Regions from separate parts of the Homo sapiens genome. Here all the other regions are reported to be linked to region 1. Evidence: microRNA targets listed by miRTarBase, many of them from high-throughput screens and not tested one by one. Region 1 holds a microRNA gene; each other region holds the end of a gene's coding sequence.
What was found. The annotated mature microRNA hsa-miR-1266-3p reads CCCUGUUCUAUGCCCUGAGGGA and lies in region 1 at 3,137-3,158, opposite strand. An mRNA with a match to its seed (bases 2 to 7 or 8) in the 3' UTR can be bound and repressed. Matches are read on the target gene's strand: a 7mer-m8 pairs with bases 2 to 8, a 7mer-A1 pairs with bases 2 to 7 and ends in A, and an 8mer does both.

Region 1 (4,598 bases):
ACTCTCTGGGCAGGATTTTTGCTTTTTACTTCTGTTCTTCAATTTCATCTCTCCTCTGCCCCTCCCCACCCTCTCCTGAGCACCCTGTTTCTAGATGACCCAGGTCATCATGCTGCCTGCCAACATGTCTTTACTGAGCACCTACTATGTGCCATGCGCTCGGTAAACAAAGGTAAACCAAATAGATACAGTCCCGCCTTCATGGAGTGTGCAGTCTAGTAGAGGAGACAAACCCTAAATATTTACACAAAATTATCCACTGGGCATTTAACTTGGCACTGGCTCTTGATAACTTTTATTTTGAGATGGGGTCCTGCTCTGTCATCCAGGCTGGAGTGCAGTGGTGCAATCTTGGCTCACTGCAACCTCCACCTCCTGACTCAAGCAATCTTCCTACCTCAGCCTCTTGAGTAGCTGGGACTACAGACATGTGCCACTATACCTGGCTAATTTTTTGTATTTTTGGTAGAGATGGGGTTTCATCATGTTGCCCAGGCTGGTCTGGAACTTCTGAGCTCAAGCAATCCACCCACCTCAGCCTCCCAAAGTGCAGGATTATAGATGTGAGCCACCGCACCCAGCCTTGATAACTTTTCTATTGGTATCTTGGATTGTAATTTATGTTTCTAAGTAAGCCTATGCCTCTGAATTATGAGCTTTGCAGTGTTTCTTAGTACCCCCCCCCCGACATATGTTTCTATTTAATTTTAAAATATTCTTACATTAGGTTAGAAGAATCTTACACTTGGAGATTGGGTCTTATTCTTTTCCATCACTTCCCACATTAGCTAAGCAGTGACTTCAACAGAGTAGATTGTCTGATAAATATTCATTGAGGATTTTGATTTGAGAAAACAGGGAGAAGAGGTCTAGTAGTCTAATATTCTTAATTTTTTGCTTTGCTTCCAAATAAATTCAAATCAATCCTCTTCCCATTTTGCGGGGCAGCTGGAGTTGGCTTGCAGGACCCTCCTCTGTGCCTTTTGGGTGCCTCTTCTTCCTTGAGGGCTGTCTCCTCACCCCCCTGGGCACCGTCACGGTTGGCCTTGCCCACTCTCTGTCCCAGTCAGTAGTGTGCTGATGAACTGGCTCTTGGGGAGGGCAGGAGGAAGAGTCTTGACATGTGGCCTCTGCCAAGGCAGAAGGTATAAATACTTCTCCCCTGACTGATGTCAAACTACCAAAGGTTTATCAATCAGCTTGCAAAATTCCTGAATATTTTAACAATCAGCTCATGAATGCTGATGCCAGCTGGGTGGAGAACACCAGTGATTTCAGTGTACCAGTGATGTTTGGTTTCCCCTGGGATGTAAATGTAAACAGAGGACTCCTGGAGTCTGATGGTAGATTTCCAGCCCAGCAGGTAGAGCAGAAGAGAGCCTTGAAAGTAACAATTCTGCCCCCATCTCCTTCAAATCCCACCAGCAAATAGGCTTCCCGGGTCTTTCCTGCCCTCACTTCTTTAGTCTTTAAAGGGTGGGAACTTGAATTAGCCAGGAGAGCACACAAACCAACCAACCCCCATTTCCATCACCAACACCCAGCTGCCTTCCGCAGTGGTACGCACCTCGGTGATGGGATTGGATGCCAGGACCTTGTCTTCCACGTGAGCGTTGCTGCCCGATTTGCTGACGGTGGCAAAGTACCTCATGGCATAGCGAGCCGACACTGTCTTTCCAGCACCTGACTCCCCACTTACAATTATGGACTGGTTTCTGTTGTTTCTAAAGCAAATAAAAGTTTTCAAATATTAGTTTCTTCCCATTAAAGAGGCAACATGTGCTAATTAAGACAAATGTGGACAAGACAAAAGAGGGAAACTGTTTTGTCACTCTACTATTTTTAAATCTCAATCAATTTCCTTCTAGATTTTTTTTTCTATGTGATCGTGCAGAACACACAATTTTAAAAGTTCACATCTTTCATCCAACCTTATTCAAATCCTTACTCCTTACTGCTTCCCTACTCAACCTTTCCACTCAACCAAAAAACTGCTCCTTCCCATCCTTCCCACTCTCTGGGCAGGATTTTTGCTTTTAAACTCTGTTCTTGAATTTCACCTCTCATTTCATCTCTCCTCTGCCTTCCCCACCCTCTCCTGAGCACCCTCTTTCTAGATGGACCCTGTGTAGGTCATCATGCTGCCTGTCAACATGTATTTATTGAGTACCATGTTGAGGGGCCCCAAGACCAACCTCAGGTTCAATGACCCAGTAAGAGGACTCTCAGGACTCAGCATATAGTCATCCTCACAGCTAAGACTGATTGCAGCAAGAGGATACACAGCAAAAGCAGCACGGGGAAAAGGCACACGGGGCAAGGTCCAGTGGAACACGGGTGCAAACTTCCAGGGGTCCTCTCCCAGTCGGGTCACACAGGACACATTCAATTCTTCCAGCAAGGAATTTGACAGCACATGTGAAATGCTGGCTGCCAGGGAAGCTCATTAGAGATGCAGTGCCCACCTTCTGCCTAGCATATGCCAATATTCCAGACTCCCAGAAGGAAAGCACGTATTCAGCATAAAGCACATTATTTACACAAACAGCTTGAGTTTAGGTAAAATGAGCCACTTTTTCAACCAAGAAATGTCAGGAACCGTCATGAAATCAGAGGCTAGCCATGGGCCACCTTGCAAGCAGGCCTCTAAAGATAGCAGCCTCAGGCCTTATGTCAACTCCTTTCTGCACATCCCACTTAAATATAAAAACATTTCAAGGACATTATTTTGAGAGCAATTATTCAAAAGATGCTTGGGAACATATGCGCTCTCTAAGCCAACATGCTCTGTTATATAATTTAGAGATTTTTTAAAAATGCATTAAACTTTTCATGTCATAAGACTGTGATGGTGGAAGCTTCTAACATGGCTCTGTGGATGTGGCACCGCTCACATGCCAGGTGCTGGGTGAATACAGATTCTCATTTAAGCTTCACAAAAATCCTACGACATAGATATCTCTTTTACAGAAGAGTAAAATGGTGACTCAGGGGTGGAGTGACTTGACCCAGAGCACAGAGCCACAGCCTCCCATGTAAATGCTAGAGGAGACTTTGGATACAGAGCCCCGGTCCAATATTTTCATTTCAAAGAGAGAAGATGAAGACTCTGAGAAGTGAAATGACATGCTCAGTGTCCCTCAGGGCATAGAACAGGGCTTTAGTAATCCCAGCCCTGTTCTACAGCCCTGAGGGACACTACCTGTCTAGCATCAAACAAGGCCAACACGAGCCTGCTTTGGGCTCCGTTCTGTTATGGCAGTTACACAGACAGACCTCCAAGGAGAAACTGGCTCTTTAGGGCTGAAGTGAGCACAGCCCTACAGTGCCAAAGAGCTCATCCCACCCATACCCAGTCCCTAATCACCACGATACCTGGGAGACCTACAGGGAGCCAGGGAAAAATCTCAGAACCACAGGGGTTTTAGGGTTAGAAGGAATCTTGGTGCAGCGGAAGCTGCTAATTCTCTACCCAGTATGCATTTGCATTCTCCTCTTCCTTCTTAGGGACTAGGCCCCAGTGGCCAGGCAGTGCCCCTCTGTGCATTTGAAAGACTGCACATCCCAGCCTCCCTATGTGAGTGAGGTCTGCCTGACGAGCTGTTAGAAGTGCTTTGTGGGGCTTCCAGAGAGTCTCCTTAACCTGGAGGGCCATACCCTTCCCCTCATATGCCTTGTTACCTAGAATATGGAAGACAGAGGTGAGAACTGGCTTGTCCCTGAGGATGACGGCCCCACCCCAGGGACAGGGAGCTGCACGGCACCGGGTCTCTGATGACTCTGAAGAAGCTCGGTCTAGCCCCAGACTGCCCATCAGACATCTGTGCAGGAAAGCAGCACGTGTTCTACCTCATGTAAGCACCACCTGCTCCCTCATTATAAGCATCAGAACCAGGAATGGGTGCCCTCTGAGAGTCCAGCTCACAGACGAAGACATAAAGCGGAGGGAGCTCAGGAGCTGCGGCTGGGGTTATGCAGTAAAGATTTAGGTAAAGAGTCAGCAGGTCCAGGTCCTGTGCCTCAGATTTCCCATCTGTGAAATGAGGGCAATGAAGTCAGTCAACTTCACAGGAGTGCTGTAAGACTCAAGGGAGACCACTGTATGTGAAAGTTCTTTTGCAAACTGTAAAGGCAGCTACAAAGATAGGGTGGTGTTTCTATTCTCCATACTTTACAGATGAAGACACTGAAGCCAAAAGTGATAGTTATGGGAAAAATAAACTAGAGTTTAAAAATCTGAGCACAAATCCCAGATCTGCCTTTTACTTGCTGCCTACCCTGGGTTGGTTATTCCCTGAAGCTGTTTACTGCCCAGACATTTGCATCGTGGGCTATTCTGAGGCCATCCCAGATGACACATGGGAATGTGTGCACGGTGCCTCATTCACAGGAGGCTTTTCATACATGTGCACTAGTGAAACGAGAACTCCACAGGGCCCTACAAACACCTAGCAGTGAAATTAGGATAAAATTCCATGTCTCCTGCACCTAAAACCTCCTGCAGCTAAAAACCCTGTCATCAGATCCTACTTCCTGCAATGGGTAAAAAAAAAAAAAGCTTAAACGTCTCATAGCAGAGAATAAATCAACACTCCTCC
Region 2 (3,000 bases), not on the chromosome of region 1:
CTCTCAAGTATGAAATCAAGAAGCTGATCTACGTACATCTGGTCATATGGCTGCTGCTGGTTGCTAAGATGAGCGTGGGACACCTGAGGCTCTTGTCACATGATCAGGTGGCCATGCCCTATCAGTGGGAATACCCGTATTTGCTGAGCATTTTGCCCTCTCTCTTGGGCCTTCTCTCCTTTCCCCGCAACAACATTAGCTACCTGGTGCTCTCCATGATCAGCATGGGACTCTTTTCCATCGCTCCACTCATTTATGGCAGCATGGAGATGTTCCCTGCTGCACAGCAGCTCTACCGCCATGGCAAGGCCTACCGTTTCCTCTTTGGTTTTTCTGCCGTTTCCATCATGTACCTGGTGTTGGTGTTGGCAGTGCAAGTGCATGCCTGGCAGTTGTACTACAGCAAGAAGCTCCTAGACTCTTGGTTCACCAGCACACAGGAGAAGAAGCATAAATGAAGCCTCTTTGGGGTGAAGCCTGGACATCCCATCGAATGAAAGGACACTAGTACAGCGGTTCCAAAATCCCTTCTGGTGATTTTAGCAGCTGTGATGTTGGTACCTGGTGCAGACCAGGCCAAAGTTCTGGAAAGCTCCTTTTGCCATCTGCTGAGGTGGCAAAACTATAATTTATTCCTGGTTGGCTAGAACTGGGTGACCAACAGCTATGAAACAAATTTCAGCTGTTTGAAGTTGAACTTTGAGGTTTTTCTTTAAGAATGAGCTTCGTCCTTGCCTCTACTCGGTCATTCTCCCCATTTCCATCCATTACCCCTTAGCCATTGAGACTAAAGGAAATAGGGAATAAATCAAATTACTTCATCTCTAGGTCACGGGTCAGGAAACATTTGGGCAGCTGCTCCCTTGGCAGGCTGTGGTCTCCTCTGCAAAGCATTTTAATTAAAAACCTCAATAAAGATGGCCCTGCCCACACTGTGCCTTGTGTTTGGGGCTTGATAGAGTGTGAAAGGTGTGTTGCTTGAAAGGTGTGGCCTTAGACACTAGGAGATGATGGGTAGAAGCTCCTTGAGAAACCTAGCAGTGGCCATAGAGAAGTAGACTGGGTATGGGGAACCTAAGTCATAGTTGTAACCTACAGCTGATTGGTAAGAACTATGGGCCAGACATTTAATCTCTCCATCTATGAAATAGTCCATTCTCATTTATCTACCTTAGGTTATGGGCTCTTCTTTTAGTTGGATATTCACATTTATCTTTCAGTGTTAACTGGGTATCAGTTATGAGTCTACTACTGTATAATGGCATCCAAAAGAATTTTAAAGTACCTCGGTTTATAGGGATTTACAATTCAGTAGAAACTTGTTATTCATGTGAAACAGTGAACATAATATCTAATGATGTGGAGCAAGTACATTAAAAACAGGAAGGAAGAGATCTGTGATTAAACTAAAGGCCCTTTCACACCTAAAATTCTGGCAGTATTTATTGCATGAAAGATAATGTGTCTCTTTGCACTTGATTTTATTGTCTCTGGATGATGCCCAGATCTGTAACTGCAGAGCTCTGCCCTCTCCAGAGATGTAGTCATTATTTTGTTCTAGAAACATTGTGTATGTAGTTAGTCATTACTGAGTCACTTTTTTTTTTTTTTTTTTTTTAATTGAGACGGAGTCTTGCTCTGTCGCCCAGGCTGGAGTGCAGTGGCACGATCTCGGCTCACTGCAAGCTCTGCCTCCCGGGTTCACACCATTCTGCCTCAACCTCCCAAGTAGCTGGGACTACAGGTGCCCACCACCACGCCCGGCTAATTTTTGTATTTTTAGTAGAGACGGGGTTTCATCGTGTTAGCTAGGATGCTCTCGATCTCCTGACCTCATGATCCGCCCTCCTCAACCTCCCAAAGTGCTGGGATTACAGGCGTAAGCCACCGTGCCTGGCCTTTTTTTTTTTTTTTTTTTTTTTTTTTAAAGGCAGTGTTTCATTTCCCTCACCCAGGCTGGAATGCAGTAGCGCCATCTTGGCTCGCCTCTACCTACCAGGCTCAAGTGATTCTCCTGCCTCAGCCTCTCAAAGTGCTTGTGTTACAGGTGTGAGCCATCGCGCCTGGCTGGCAGTACTTACAACTCTAAAACCTCTTCCTCTAGATGTCCTAATTATCATCTCAAAATAAGTATGTCCCAAACAGACCTTTGTGTTTCTGCCTCATACCCATTCCTCTTCCTGCATCCCTTTGTTCAAGTGAGTATATACCAAGAGTACAGCTCTGGATTATCTGTTCCATGATCATTAAGTCCCTACTATGATCTTTGTTGCAACTTAAATGCCTTAAGCTCTGAGGTTTCCAAAGTGGTCCCAATCCACCAGTCCTGCATTATCTCCCAATACCCCTAGTCTCATGCTGTCTTAGTCAACTAAACCTCTTATGGATCCCCATGTAGGTTTCGTGGTTTCCCAGTTTCCTTTGCTTAAAAATTTCCCTTTTCTATTTTTATACTGCTTTATTAATTATCCTTTAAGGCCCAGTTAATATGGCAATTCTTGAGCTTTCTGGTTCCTTCAATTCAAGGAACATGAATTCCTTCTCTGAGTTCTTATTTTACTGCTTTTAGGTGCTGCACAGGAGGTGTGAAAAACATGCAATTCTTTTTATTTATTTTTTTTATTTTTATTTTTTTTGAGACAAGGTCTTACTCTGTCGCCCAGGCTGGAGTGCAGTGGCATGATCTTGGCTCACTACAACCTCCGCCTCCCGGGTTCAAGCGATTCTCTTGCCTCAGCCTCCCTAGTAGCTGGGATTACAGGCGCCTGCCGCCGCGCCCGGCCTAATTTTTTTTTTTTTTAAACAGAGTCTTGCCCTGTTCCCTAGGCTGAAGTGCAGTGGCTCGATCTGGGCTCATTGCAGCTTTCCCTCCCAGGTTCAAGCGATTCTCCTGACTCAGCCTCCTGAGTAGCTGGGATTACAGGCATGTGACACTATGCCTGGCTAATTTTTGTATTCTTAATAGAGACAGGGTCTCACTATGTTGGCCAGACTGGTCTT
Region 3 (3,000 bases), not on the chromosome of region 1:
GATTTTCTTTATTCTCTTCCTTCCCCTCTCTATCGCAGGCGGCATATTTTCTACCTTCAGCATCACTTAAATGGTAGGTTTCCTCACAGCATGACCCAGTTGTCACCTGCAGACAGCCCTGGGGGGACTTTGAGTGACTTGCACCTTATCCCAGCAGGCTCCCAGCTGTCTCAAGCAATGGAAGTAGATGGACTGAATGACTCTAGCAAGCAAGGCTATTCCCAGGAAACCAAACGCCTGAAGCGGACGCCAGTTCCAGACTCCCTAGGCCTAGAAATGGAGCACAGGTTCATTGATCAAGTATTGTCCACCTGTCGGAACGTGGAGCAAGCCAGGTTTGCCAGTGCATACAGGAAATGGCTGGTTACTTTGAGTCAATGAAAGAGGTGAATTAGTCCTACAAGGTTCCCCTTTTAGTGCAATATTGCTTTCTTTTATTATTTACATAGTTGCATGAACTGTTTACTATTATTGGCTAACCATATGTTCTTCGTCTTTAGGTTGAAAGTCCATAGTAAATCTTTCATTTTATTTATTTTGTTAATAACTGGCATTCCTGTGGGGATAAAATAATCGTATAGTTCCTTCCTGCTGAACAGCGAGTCTTAAATTTTCTGTTTAACTTCTCACCCTTTGTATTTCTATATGTGGGGCTTCTCATTTGGTTTTCCTGATTGGTTCACACACACACACCTCTACCCCCCTCAGTCCAATTGCTGCATAGGCAAATTCTTTTAAAAATTAAAAATTTAAGGCCTAGGCAGGAGGATTGCCTGAGCCCAGGACTTTGAGACCAACCTGGGCCACATAGCAAGACCCGATTTCTACAAAAAGTAAAACAAAATAGCTAGGCATGGTGCTATGCAACTGTGTTCCTAGCTATGCAGGAAGCTGAGGCAGAAGGATTGCTTGAGCCCCAGGTGTTTGTGGCTGTAGTGAGCCATGATTGCACCACTGTACTCAGCCTGGGCAATAGAGTTGAGACCCTGTCTCTAAAACAAATTGAAAATAAACATTTATGTTGCAGTTCAACTGAAGAATGTTGGTATGAATGCCGAATAACTTGATGTAATTGTTTTGAGAATCAAATGGCTAGATGGGCGAATGTTTAAAAATGTAAACTAGTTCTCTTTCTCTAGCATGTTCTACCCAATTACCAAAGTCAGAAGTATTGGAATTTATATGAAAAAAATGCTTCCAATGTAATCCATTTTTTAAATGGTTATTTAAGAAAAAACTAACTTAAGAGTTTATGTAATTGCAGTAAAGGAAAATTATTTTTATTGCTAGTTTTGATAGATTATTTTTACCTCAAATTTGGTATATGCCAAAACACATCAGTCCTTATAAAATTGATTTTTTTTTCCTGAAAACCTGGAATGCCATTTTTAGCTATTACTACTTTTTAATTTCAAATTCACTTATGACAAATGGGAGAAATATATAAAGAAATAGATCCATAAAAATATTCCTTTTTAAAAATCTAAATTATTGAGGATACACTATGGAAACTATAAAATTATCATGAAGTGACTGTTAAAGTTTACTGGCAAATGCCAAGGGAAGGAATAGTATGTGCAAAACAAAACACTTTGATACTGAACTTAATCAGGGATGAGGTACCAAAGTATCCACATTATAGCCGTATCTTATGTTTCCAATAACAAGGGCTGAGTTTTTCAGGTAGGTGGGATGAGGGTGGGGAATGGGCCATGTAATGTCTGCTTTCTTATATTTGCCCTTTTGTAAGTGGTCTGTTTCTTCTTTTCATATACTTTGTTTTGCCAATCCATTACGTATTTTTTGTCACTTTTGTGTGTCATTTTTGTATACCTTTCCTTTCTTACTTCAGGGGTGTGTCTTCAAGATTTCTACCCCCTATTTGCAATGAATTTCATACCTCATCTAAAATACATTCATATACCAGAAATATGAAGAGTGGCCCTTCTAAAAGTTTCCCTAATGATGGAAGCTGTCAGTTGTCCTATCTGTGCAGAATGTGAGTAATAGTGGCAGAAATAAGTGTGACAACAATGCTTTGCCTGTTGTTCTTTTTACTTGCTAGGTAATTTGTAAAGTGGGGATAAAGATGTAGGGAAAGTAAACCTCTCTCTCACTGTTACGGAAAGCCTGGACTTGAGTTAGGTAGACTGCCTTAAAGAAGAAGAAATATGTCCTTTTCTTTGGCATCATGGTTTTGTTGAGTGGCAGACTGTTGAAGTGAGTTGAGACTTAAGAACGCCAGAAAAGTTGTCTAGCCTGGCCCCAGTAGACAGAATTTGTTCTTCTCTCAAGTAAAAAATTACCTTTTTATAGCTTTTATATTATTTAGATGAAAAAATACCATTATGAACATAATTCCATGGCCCTTTGTGTACAAAGCATATTTTGAATTAAATACCTCAAGGTCCACCTAGACCTCTATGGATAAAATCATAAGTTTATGATTTTTAGCTCCTGTGAGTGTTTGGGGGCAAACTACACAGAGAAGACATGGGTGGTTCAGCCCATTCCACTAAAATATGTTGCCAGATTCTGGCCTAACTCAGTATTACCTTTTTTCCTAAAAATCATTTTTCACATTTTGAGTAATAGGGCTTATGCTTTGATGTGAAAAAATGTCAGGAAATGAGTGTAGACAATACCCTATAAAACACTAGCTAAGTTTTATAGTGCTCCATGCCTTTGTGTACCTTCCACTGATTATCTTGCCTATCTTTGGTGTGTAAACTATTTTCATATCTTCTAAGGCTCTTAACCCACTCTTTTCTGAAGCCGCACAGTCCTTTAATATGTCTTGTTTCCTTCCTAAAAGTTTAAAGTAGAGAGCAAAAATGCAAATACCCAAAGGATACTGTTAGTATGTAACTTTTGTGTGCTGCTTTATTTCTAGAGTTTGCATTTTTTAATTGTTCATTCACAGAAAATCCTAATATTGCCCTATATGGTTGGTTTTTTTCCTAAGTGGTTAATATTTAAACCCGCTAGCTGTAGCATGAT

Region 2: the mRNA of JAGN1 is a reported target of hsa-miR-1266-3p. Seed matches in the 3' UTR shown: 7mer-A1 at 1,379-1,385.
Region 3: miRTarBase lists PTAR1 as a target of hsa-miR-1266-3p. The part of its 3' UTR that is shown has no 7-base or 8-base seed match.

The regions. Positions count from the first base shown.
Region 1 is chr15:52,273,995-52,278,592 of GRCh38, forward strand. It overlaps MIR1266 (microRNA 1266), which reads right to left and starts at 3,206; the gene lies at 3,123-3,206. It overlaps MYO5C (myosin VC), which reads right to left. Exons shown (of 41, transcript NM_018728.4): 5 at 1,568-1,724.
Region 2 is chr3:9,892,920-9,895,919 of GRCh38, forward strand. It overlaps JAGN1 (jagunal vesicle mediated transporter 1), which reads left to right. Exons shown (of 2, transcript NM_032492.4): 2 at 1-1,430. The coding sequence ends at 458. Among named protein-coding and RNA genes, the nearest start is that of JAGN1, 3.8 kb to the left of the region's middle.
Region 3 is chr9:69,715,723-69,718,722 of GRCh38, reverse strand. It overlaps PTAR1 (protein prenyltransferase alpha subunit repeat containing 1), which reads left to right. Exons shown (of 8, transcript NM_001099666.2): 7 at 39-73; 8 at 155-3,000. The coding sequence ends at 381. Among named protein-coding and RNA genes, the nearest start is that of PTAR1, 43 kb to the left of the region's middle.